3 linked regions of the Homo sapiens genome follow. The protein of the gene in region 3 purifies or fractionates together with the protein of the main gene of each other region. This does not show direct contact. Each region holds a gene or a part of one and is shown on either strand. Other genes may lie near its edges.

Region 1 (3,652 bases), on a different chromosome or scaffold from region 3:
GCGTTGATGATGATAAAGCGAATGCAACAGTGGATGGTCTTGAACAGGTACTTTTTATCAATAACTGAAAACTGTAGGGATCTTACTTGGTGTTTTTATGTAATTGTTGGAAGGATCATTCAGAAAGCAAATGGGTTAATGAACTTTTAAAATGCTGTAGGTGAGGCATGACAGTTTACACACTGTGTTTATCAGTGCTCTTGATGAAATTACACAAGTTAGGAAATGGAAAATGTCCACTTGGTTCATTTGTATCTGTCTGCTTAAACGCTTTCTAGGGATATGTTGTTTGTCCTTCTGAAAAGAGATTCCTTCTGCTCTTTACATTCCTTAAGAAGAACCGAAAGAAGAAGCTTATGGTCTTCTTTTCATCTTGTATGTCTGTGAAATACCACTATGAGTTGCTGAACTACATTGATTTGCCCGTCTTGGCCATTCATGTAAGTGATGATGATGAGCTCATTGAAAACAGGGTATGCTTATTAAATCCTATAGATTGTAGGATTGGAGGTATTGCCCTCTCCTGGAAACATTGTTCTGAGTAGTTTGATCACCACTAGATGATGGATCCTGTGTGGGGGAGCGCTGCTGGGTGTGGAGGGGTATGAGGACTTTCGAAGAGTGCAAGACACCATCCTCCTTGAGGGGCTTGCGGAACAGTTGGGGAAATAGGACATAGGCCAAGGGATGAGCTCGAAATAGGGTAACAGTTCCACAATTTGGGGGTTCTACTGCTAGTCTTCCTCAAGATTCCAGCTCTAATGGATGTTTTTATTTAATTCTAGGGAAAGCAAAAGCAAAATAAGCGTACAACCACATTCTTCCAGTTCTGCAATGCAGATTCGGGAACACTATTGTGTACGGATGTGGCAGCGAGAGGACTAGACATTCCTGAAGTCGACTGGATTGTTCAGTATGACCCTCCGGATGACCCTAAGGTAACTGGCATCTTTGGAATATCTTCAGAATGACTCTGCATTAAAAGTTCACTTATTCTCCCAGTTCCCTGACGGAAACTGCATTCCACATTCAAGGTAAAGATCCCTACTATACAGTGACTGCAGTATTTCTCTGGTATTGAAAAGTACTTAAGGCTTTTCAGGGCTCAAACGGGCTGTGCCAGAGGATTGAAAAGGATCAGTGGGACTTAAGTTATGAAAATGAGATCCTTGGAATGATCTCTTAAGAACAGCAGATGCCTGAAGGAAATAAAATTGCTTAAGGAAGTAGATAAACTTCTGTAGTATATGTGGTAGAATAAGCTTCATTGAGAAGTATTTTCAACAAACACTGGATTAAAGCCGTTTTGATGATGAAGCACACATAATACTCATTTTATTAGATCGCTGTTAATGCAAACATCATGTCCAGCCTTTTTTTTTTTTTTTTTTTTTTTTTTTTGGGCCTCAATCATTGGCCTATTGGGGGTGATGTGCACAGAGCGATTGCTGGCCCAGCTTTGTGGGGGTGTGGTGAAGGTGTGTGTGGCCCAGCACCGTGGGACTACACCATCTCAGTACAGACATGCACATACTCAGGATGCAGATACGCAAATGGGCTCATGTGGAAGTCACTGCGTTAACTCAGATTTTCTTTCTCCACCAAAGGAATATATTCATCGTGTGGGTAGAACAGCCAGAGGCCTAAATGGGAGAGGGCATGCCTTGCTCATTTTGCGCCCAGAAGAATTGGGTTTTCTTCGCTACTTGAAACAATCCAAGGTAAAGATCTGTACTTGGAGAAAGATTTCTCTTGGTGTAGGGATTGTTAGCAAGCAACATTTCTACATGTGTCAGAGGAGTCTCGAGTCTGGCCAGTGCTGTTACAACCATTCTTATGGCAATTAAGCAAGTAAGGTTTTATGTACTTCTAGCCCAAGAAGTGAGCACAGAAGGAACTGCCCACATGGCTCGGCTTTCTAGCTCTGTTACCCAGCAACACCTCTGTGTCCCAGCCTCTCCTTTCCTGTTCCCTCCAGCCCTCTTTGAAACCTTCTCCACTCCTTTGAAGCTCCCTCACACCTAGTCATCTCTGCTTCTGCTCCCCTTCTTTCCTCTTACCTCATGTGAAGCAGTGGGGAATCCTTGTTCGCTCTAGCCTCTGCCTCCTCCCCTGCCCTCTGTCTCCTATTCATCAACTCTTGGCCTACAGTCTCTTCCTTGCGGTTGGCGCTTTACCATCTCAAATTTCTCACTGTAAAAAAGTAACTTCAACCTTAAACCTGTTCTTCTACCCCTGCCTGCAGGAGCTACTGTCTGTTGCCTTTCCTCAGTCAGCCTTACTGGAAAAATGGCTTATATTCTTGCCATTTACCTCCCTCTCAGTCCCTAACCAGCCTAATTTGGCTTTAGCTTTCTACTATCACACCAGAATTGAATCCATCAGGACCCTAAGTGGCCTCTTCATTGCTAGGCCATGTGGGGGATGCATATCAGGCCTTCTCCTGCCTGACATTTACATCCTCATTGGCCTTTCTGGCATAGTCTTGATGATAGGCTTCCTCTACCCTGTAACTGCAGGCAGTTCCCTGAAATTGCTCTACAGCTTTTGCACACTTTGTCCAGAATGCTTGGTTTCAGCTCGCCTCTGTCTTTGCTGGGAAGCCATCGCTGATCTCCTGCCTCCTTGTTCCCACAGCACAGGTGCTCATCAGGTTGACATTTCTTTCTTTCTTTCTTTTTTTATTATTATTACACTTTAAGTTCTAGGGTACATGTGCACCATGTGCAGGTTTGTTACATATGTATTCATGTGCCATGTTGGTGTGCTGCACCCATAAACTCGTCATATACGTTAGGTATATATCCTAATGCTATCCCTTCCCCCTCCCCCCACCCCACGACAGGCCCCGGTGTGTGATATTCACCACCCTGTGTCCAAGTGTTCTCATTGTTCATTTCCCACCTGTGAGTGAGAACATGCGGTGTTTGGTTTTCTGTCCTTGCAATAGTTTGCTCAGAATGATGGTTTCCCGTGTCATCCATGTCCCTACAAAGGACATGAACTCATCCTTTTTTATGGCTGCATAGTATTCCATGGTGTGTATGTGCCACATTTTCTTAATCCAGTCTGTCATTGATGGGCATTTGGGTTGGTTCCAAGTCTTTGTTATTGTGAATAAACATACATGTGCATGTGTCTTTATAGCAGCATGATTTATAATCCTTTGGGTATATACCCAGTAATGGGATGGCCGGGTCAAATGGTATTTCTAGGTCTAGATCCTTGAGGAATCGTCACACTGTCTTCCACAATGGATGAACTAGTTTACAGTCCCACCAACAGTGTAAAAGTGTTCCTGTTTCTCCACATCTCCTCCAGCACCTGTTGTTTCCTGACTTTTTAATGATCGCCATTTTAACTGGTGTGAGATGGTATCTCACTGTGATTTTTATTTGGATTTCTCTGATGGCCAGTGATGATGAGCATATTTTCATGTCTGTTGGCTGCCTAAATGTCTTCTTTTGAGAAGTGTGTGTTCATATCTTTCGCCCACTTTTTGATTGGGTTGTTTGATTTTTTCTTGTAAATTTGTTTAAGTTCTTAGTAGATTCTGGATATTAGTCCTAGCCAAAATTGACAAATGGGATCTAATTAAAGAGCTTCTGCACAGCAAAAGAAACTACCATCAGAGTGAACAGGCAACCTACAG
Region 2 (3,652 bases), on a different chromosome or scaffold from region 3:
ACCTTGCCTAGGTCATAGCCCAGAACCCAGATCCCGTCTCACCACAGCCCTCAGTCTTTCTACCCTGCAGCACTCTTCTACTCTCATGCTCTTCGTTCTCTTCACTAGGGCTTAAATGACTTTGGGGGGATATAAAACTTGGTATTTTGGTAATCATCAACCACATTCCCAAGATCCAGAGAGTTTGGTAAATGTTAACTTTCTTTCCAAAGTGGGAACATCATTGTGGCCACTCCAGGCCGCTTGGAGGACATGTTCCGGAGGAAGGCCGAAGGCTTGGATCTGGCCAGCTGTGTGCGATCCCTGGATGTCCTGGTGTTGGATGAGGCAGACAGACTTCTGGACATGGGGTTTGAGGCAAGGTACTGGACTTTGGACTTCACTGGCTTGAGTGGGCAGATGATACTAATACAAAAGGGGAGCAAAATGGAGTTTACTGTTTCATGACTAGGTATTTTTATTTTTTATTTTCATTTTTATTTATTTTTTATTTATTTGTTTATTAGAGACAGGGTCTTGTGCTGTCACCCAGGCTGGAGTGCAGTGGTGTGATTATGTTCACTGCAGCCTCAACCTCTCGGGCTCAGATGATCCTCCTGCATCAGCCTCCCGGGTAGCTGGGATTACAGGTGCACACCACCATGCCTGGATGGTTTTTTTATTTTTTGCAGATGAGGTTTTGCCATGTTGCCCAGTCTGTTCTCAAACTCCTGGACTTAAGTGATCCTCCTACCTAGGGTACCCAAAGTGCTAGGATTACAGGTGCCAGCCACCATGCCTGGCCTAAGTATTTTTATTAACCACATTTTAATTTCAAATCATTAAGTAGTTTGAGCTTTCAAATTCTACCACGTGATTTTATTCCAGTTCTATCTTTGATCTTAAAATGCACTTTCCTTCAAGTTTTTTTTTTTTTTTTTTTTTTGAGACAGGGTCTCACTCTGTCATCCAGGCTAGAATGCAGTGGCATGATTTCGGGTCATTGCGACCTTTACTTCCTGGGCTTAAGTGATCCTCCCACCTCAGCCTCCTGAGTCATCTGGGACTACAGGCACATGCCATCATGCTTTTTTTTTTTAATTTTTGGCAGAGACAAGATCCCATTATGTTGCCCAGGTTGGTCTCAAACTCCTGGGCTCAAGAGATCTTCCCATCCCAGTCTCCCGAAGTGCTGGGATTACAAGCATGAGCCATCACACCTGGCAGTTTTGTTGTTTTTTAATAAACAGCTTTATGGGATATAATTCACATATCATTATAATTGTATGCTAAAATTTGAGGAACCTTGGAAAAATGAAAGTATAAAGAAGAAACAAAGAATCACCTATAATCTCACCTCCCAGTGTATGTGCTATAAATATTTTGATGGCTTCACTTTCAGTCTTTTTGAATACCTGTTTAGTATCGTGAAGCACTGTGTGTTGATTCTGCTGGCAAGTGAGCGGTTAAGTGTGAGCCCTCTTTTTATCAGCATCAACACCATTCTGGAGTTTTTGCCAAAGCAGAGGAGAACAGGCCTTTTCTCTGCCACTCAGACGCAGGAAGTGGAGAACCTGGTGAGAGCGGGCCTCCGGAACCCTGTCCGGGTCTCAGTGAAGGAGAAGGGCGTGGCAGCCAGCAGTGCCCAGAAGACCCCCTCCCGCCTGGAAAACTACTACATGGTAAGCGCCTGGGCTTGCTTCTTACTCAGCGATAATGACCAGTGCTCATTTTATGGAAATTGTACTGGTAGAATAAATATGTGAGACCCTGTAGCACCTATGAAATGCATTTGGGGACAGAGCTAGCTAGGGCAAATGGCCTGAGTGGTCCTACTCATTGAATGAATAAGTTAAATTGGACATAAATGTATTTTAAGCACAGTCTCTAAGGACAGAGTCTCTGAACCTCCTACCCTCAAGTGACCAAATGTTTCTATTGTACATGCTTGGGGTGTGCTGGGTGCAGCCATGACTAAGCTCTGTAGTTCCTGGGCCCGTCAGAACAGCCTGTCTGACAGAGAAGGGCATAGTTAGATGTGCAGGTGGAACACAGAAAATCAAATGACAGACTCACTCCTAAGGAGACTTTGTGGGGTGGAAATGTTCTGCTCCGTAAATGTTGTGTATTTTTGACCTGCATCAAATATGCTGAGTTTCTTTTTTTTTTTTTTTTTTTTTTTTGAGACAGAGTCTGGCTCTGTCGCCCAGGCTGGAGTGCAGTGGCGCGATCTCAGCTCACTGCAAGCTCCGCCTCCTGGGTTCATGCCATTCTCCTGCCTCAGCCTCCCGAATAGCTGGGACTACAGGCGCCCGCCACCACGCCCGGCTAATTTTTTGTTAGCCCTGTTAGCCAGGATGGTCTCCATCTCCTGACCTGGTGATCCACCTGCCTCGGCCTCCCAAAGTGCTGGGATTACAGGTGTGAGCCACCGCGCCCGGCCGTTTTTTTTTGTTTGTTTTTTTTTGTTTTGAGACGGGGTCTCACCCTGTCACCCAGGCTGGAGTGCAATGGCACGATCTCGGCTCACTGCAACCTCTGCCTCCTGGTTCAAGCAATTCTTCTGCCTCAGTCTCCCGAGTAGCTGGGATTACAGGCATGTGCCACCATGCCCAGCTAATTTTTTGTATCTTTAGTAGAGGTGGGGTTTCACCACATTGGACAGGCTGGTCTTGAACTCCTGACCTCATGATCCTCCTGCCTCAGCCTCCCAAAGTGCTGGGATTACAAGAATGAGCCATCATGCCTGGCCCAAATATGCTGAATTTCTAGTAGTAAATACTGGCTGCTGGCTTCTGTAGTTTCTTCACAAAGAAGTAGATGGGCTTTTGGCAACTTGATTGTTTAGTAATGAGGCCACTCCTCACCCCTGTTCTGTTCTGTCCCATTGCTGGGATGGGCCAGGAGGCACAAATGTAGAGAGCACAGGCTGCAGGGGAGGCAGCACCATCAGGGCGAGGAGGCACCCACAGGCCAGTGCCACTGCTGACGGTACACTGGCCCACCAGCCCGGGGCTGGGGCTTTTCTTTCTCTTTTGCAATAAGCTTTCTCAGGTTAAATTTTTCGTTAGGCCTGGAGGGGTTCCCTAGCTCCTGAACATGTCTGCTGTTCAAAATGAAGGAGGCTGGTCTCGAAACCAGAATGTTCCTATTGCTGCAGACTGTGAGGTTGTCGAGGCTGCTCTCCGGTTTGTGTCAATTTGTAGGCAGATTAAAGGTAGAATGAGTTTGCAAATGAGAAACTGCACCTAGTGTAACTGGAGAGTGTTGTCAAAATCAGATAGGCTCATCAGAAGTGGGAGTTGTAGTTGCCATTGATGTTTCTGACAAGCTGGACTGGGTGAGGGAGGAGGCTAGCTCTTCCCAAGCAGAGGGAAGGACTCTGCATAGGGTAGTGTGGAGAGCATGGGCGCTAGAGCAGGACTGCCTGGTGCATATCTTGGCTTTGGCCCCTACCAGATTTAACCGATGAACTTAGAGGTCCTTACTTGTCAAATGGGGGCCACAGTAGTATACAGCTTCGTAGGGTTGCTGCAGGATTAATTAATTAATCCATGCAAAAATGTTCATGATAGTGCTTAGTACACAATAAGTATGGGTTGAGCATTCCTAACTTGAAATTCCAAAATCCAAAATCCTCCAAAATCTGAAGCTTTTTTGAGTGCCAACATGA
Region 3 (3,652 bases):
TTAGAACGTCACCATTAGTTGTTATTCATCTAGCAGAAATCATTACGTGCTCTGTTGCAAGAGGTTAAATGGCTTTTGGGCAATCTGTTTCAAATGTAGAAGTACTTTGTGTTTACTGGAATTGGTATTTCATGATCATTTAAAACCAAAGTAAGAAGTCCTTTTGATGGAAAATATATTCTGTAAATCAAACTTCGCTGTTGCCATTTTTCTGTTGTCAACCAATATCTGTTCTTTCCTCAATTTAGGAACAGTCGTGGTAAAATAATTAAACCCCTGCAATATCAATCAACGGTGGCTTCTGGCACAGTGGCAAGAGTAGAGCCAAATATTAAATGGTTTGGTGAGTATTATCCCCTGTTACTTTGCTCTACAAAATATATGCTGAGTGGAAACGGCTAGGATGTTTAAATGTCTAAACAGCAGGAGTTTTTGGTGAGTGAAACCGGCAAGGATTATCTGAGAAAGGGATAAGAAGAATTACTGGGAAAAGTAGTGGTGGTCAATTTAATAAATAACTTCTTTTTGAAGAGCGCTCACCATTAGTAATTGTAATTGAACCCTCTTAAGCAGATAAGACCATCCTTAATGACTAGCATTCACAGACCTTAGAATGCTCATCTTAATCTTTTCTGCTTTCCTAAAGAGATACTGTTGGAGAGGTGGCCTTGTAGGTTTTGTGCATATATCCTTCAGGGTAAGTGCATTAGCCCGAAGTTCCTCTGAAATACTTCTTAATGGGGTTTTTATTTGAACTTGGGTGACAATTAAAGGGTCTCACTGTTGAACTGTCCAACAGTGAATAGAGTATCTTCAGTCTCAGGGTGATCACAGCTTCTTCCTTGGAAAACTCCCTGTCTCATTTCAGTCTGGGCTCTTAACTTTGCCCTTAGCCACTGGTAAATGTATGGGCACTTTAGATGATCAGACCCCAGTGTTTGCTTGGTGTTTGACCTCTGTCCTTGGGGGCAGGTGGCAGCTATCTTTGAGTCTCTTATACTTTCAGTGGGATACTTCCTAAGAACTGCAACACAGAAAGGTGTCAAAACTCTGCAGAGAAGCATTTAGCATGGCTGCTGGGTACTGTGACTCGATTAGACTGCCTGGGTTTGAATTCTAGTTCTGTCATTTATGTGCCAGTGGGCAAGTTATTAAGTCTGTCTGTTCATCAGTTTTCTCATCCCTAACATGAGAATAAGATGAAACCTATCTCATAAGACTGTCATGGTAATCAAATGAGTAAATACAGGCAGGGCGCAGTGGCTCACGCCTGTAATCCCAGCACTTTGGGAGGCCAAGGCTGGTGAATCACTTGAGGTCAGGCATTCGAGACCAGCCTGGCCAACACAGTGAAACCCCCATCTCTACTAAATATACAAAAATTAGCCAGGTGTTGTGGTGGGCACCTGTAATCCCAGCTACTTGGGAGGCTGGGGCAGGAGAATCCCTTGAGCCCAGGAGGCAGAGGTTGCAGTGAGCTGAGATTGTGCCACTGCACTCCAGCCTGGGTGACAGAGTGAGACTCCATCTCAAAAAAAAAAAAAAAAAAAGAGTAAATATATATAAAGTGCTTAGAATAGCGCCTAGCAAATAGTGAGTATAATATAAGCATTACTTGCTACCGTCATTACCACCTTGCTGTTTTGCATTTATGCCGCAGCATGCTGTTTAATTGAATGCTTTTCAGGGTCTCCCTCACAAGATGTTTTCCAGGTGGTGGTGCAGGGCTCTATCTTGTTCCCTTGCATGGACTCATTGGTTAATAGTCCCTTTGAATCCTCATAACCCTAAAAGTGGCTAACTATGACTCAAATTTCAGTGTTTCAAGATTCTCTGTCTATACTGACTGATCAGCTGTGATTGGCTCCAGGTTTCTCTGCTAGATCTAGCAGGTAGTAGGACATTTGACAGATCTCAGTTCCATTCCACGCTATTTATTTCTCAGTTTCATTTAGTTAGGAAACTGGACTTGGAAAACTATTGAAACCCTTTGTGGGTCTGGATTTGTGGAATAGTTCATAGTGTGCAAGTGCGGGAGAGGCAGTTTTTTGGTTTTTTCCTCTTTTAAGTTTGAAAACAGCTCCAAGGGATGGATGGATCAGGTGCTTGGGTAAGTGAGGGTAATTTAAAATCTTGCCTTTCACCGTGTCAGTGGAAGATGGATGCGCAAATATTAACTAAGTGGCAACATTCTTTATTTGTAAAACAGGAAACACACGTGTGATTAAGCAGTCATCATTACAAAAATTTCAAGAGGAAATGGATACAGTTATGAAGGATCCATACAAAGTTGTCATGAAGCAAAGCAAGTTACCAATGTCTCTTCTCCATGATCGAATCCGGCCTCATGTAAGATGTAGGATATCCCTGGTGATGGAATTTCCTGGGCAAACTCCATGCAGATCCCTCTCTAACATATTTGTCTTTTGTTTTTCCTTAGAAAATAGTGACTTTAATGTAGCAATGATGAACTTTCTAAGACCTCTCTTTTCACCTTTTCATGTTTAGTATGAGGTGCAGTAGTGTAGTGGATCAAAGCACAGGTTTTGGAGTTGAGACCTGAATTTTAATCCTTGCTCTATCCCTTCCTGTGCCCTTAGTTGGGTTTCTCCATGAACTTTAACTTCTTTGCCTTGAAAGTATAGATAGGTCGGACACAGTGGCTCACGCCTGTAATCCCAGCACTTGGGAGGCTCAGGCAGGCGGATCACCTGAGGTCAGGAGTTTGAGACCAACCTGACCAACAAGAAGAAACCCTGTCTCTACTAAAAATACAAAATTAGCCAGGCGTGGTGGTGCATACCTGTAATCTCAGCTACTCAGGAGAGGCTGAGGCAGGAGAATCGCTTGAACCTGGGAGGCAGAGATTGCAGTGAGCCAAGATCGTGCCATTGCACTCCAGCCTGGGCAACAGGAGCGAAACTCCGTCTAAAAAAAACAGAAAGTATAGATAACCGACCTCCTTGGGTTATTGGCTACAGATGAAGCATCTGTAAAGCACTTGGCCCATAGTGAGCACATAGCACACCACCTAATAAGAGCTAAATTGATAACAGCTATTAGTAATATTATTTATTTTGGTAGGCAAACTTGTTTTAAGTGGTAATTCCATCAAACTTTGGGACAGCGTAGAATTAGGATTGAGTTGGTAGAACTTTGGTGTTGCGTACGTTCAGCTTTTGTGAGATCCTTGAGATTTTTTCTCAGCTGAAGGAAGGGGTGCTGGTCACATTGGTTGTCAATTGCTAAAATTTGAAGTGCAGTAAGGATTCAATCTGGGTTGAGTGGAATGAGTTTCACACAGAACAAAGAAAGAATCTGTTGTTTGTCTGCTTATTTTTACTTGCATTGAATAATAAATTCCCAGAAATGTAGCCAGTACGTAAGCTTCAGTTCCAGTATGAGGAGGGGAGAAAAACATTGACATGCATACGTGGGTTAAATAGTTCAGGCTGGGCGCGGTGGCTCACGCCTGAATCCCAGCACTTTGGGAAGCCAAGGCGGGTGGATCACAAGGTCAGGAGATTGAGACCATCCTGGCTAACACGTGAAATCCCGTCTCTACTAAAAATACAAAAAAAAATTAGCCGGGCGTGGTGGCGGGCACCTGTAGTCCCAGCTACTCAGGAGGCTGAGGCAGGAGAATGATATG

The links.
Region 1: the proteins of GNL2 (region 3) and DDX18 purify together in Homo sapiens (affinity purification with mass spectrometry; 2 studies listed by BioGRID and IntAct, with this or other methods). This does not show direct contact.
Region 2: the proteins of GNL2 (region 3) and DDX55 purify together in Homo sapiens (co-immunoprecipitation; 2 studies listed by BioGRID and IntAct, with this or other methods). This does not show direct contact.

Annotation. Positions count from the first base shown.
Region 1 is NC_000002.12:117,824,662-117,828,313, forward strand, and holds part of DDX18 (ATP-dependent RNA helicase DDX18), read left to right. Parts: coding exon 1-47; intron 48-278; coding exon 279-440; intron 441-785; coding exon 786-938; intron 939-1,607; coding exon 1,608-1,721; intron 1,722-3,652. UniProt on the Homo sapiens protein: ATP-dependent RNA helicase that plays a role in the regulation of R-loop homeostasis in both endogenous R-loop-prone regions and at sites of DNA damage.
Region 2 is NC_000012.12:123,608,468-123,612,119, forward strand, and holds part of DDX55 (ATP-dependent RNA helicase DDX55), read left to right. Parts: intron 1-212; coding exon 213-362; intron 363-1,471; coding exon 1,472-1,661; intron 1,662-3,652. UniProt on the Homo sapiens protein: Probable ATP-binding RNA helicase. Has ATPase activity and is involved in the maturation of precursor large subunit rRNAs.
Region 3 is NC_000001.11:37,589,403-37,593,054, reverse strand, and holds part of GNL2 (nucleolar GTP-binding protein 2), read left to right. Parts: intron 1-248; coding exon 249-343; intron 344-2,209; coding exon 2,210-2,349; intron 2,350-3,652. UniProt on the Homo sapiens protein: GTPase that associates with pre-60S ribosomal subunits in the nucleolus and is required for their nuclear export and maturation.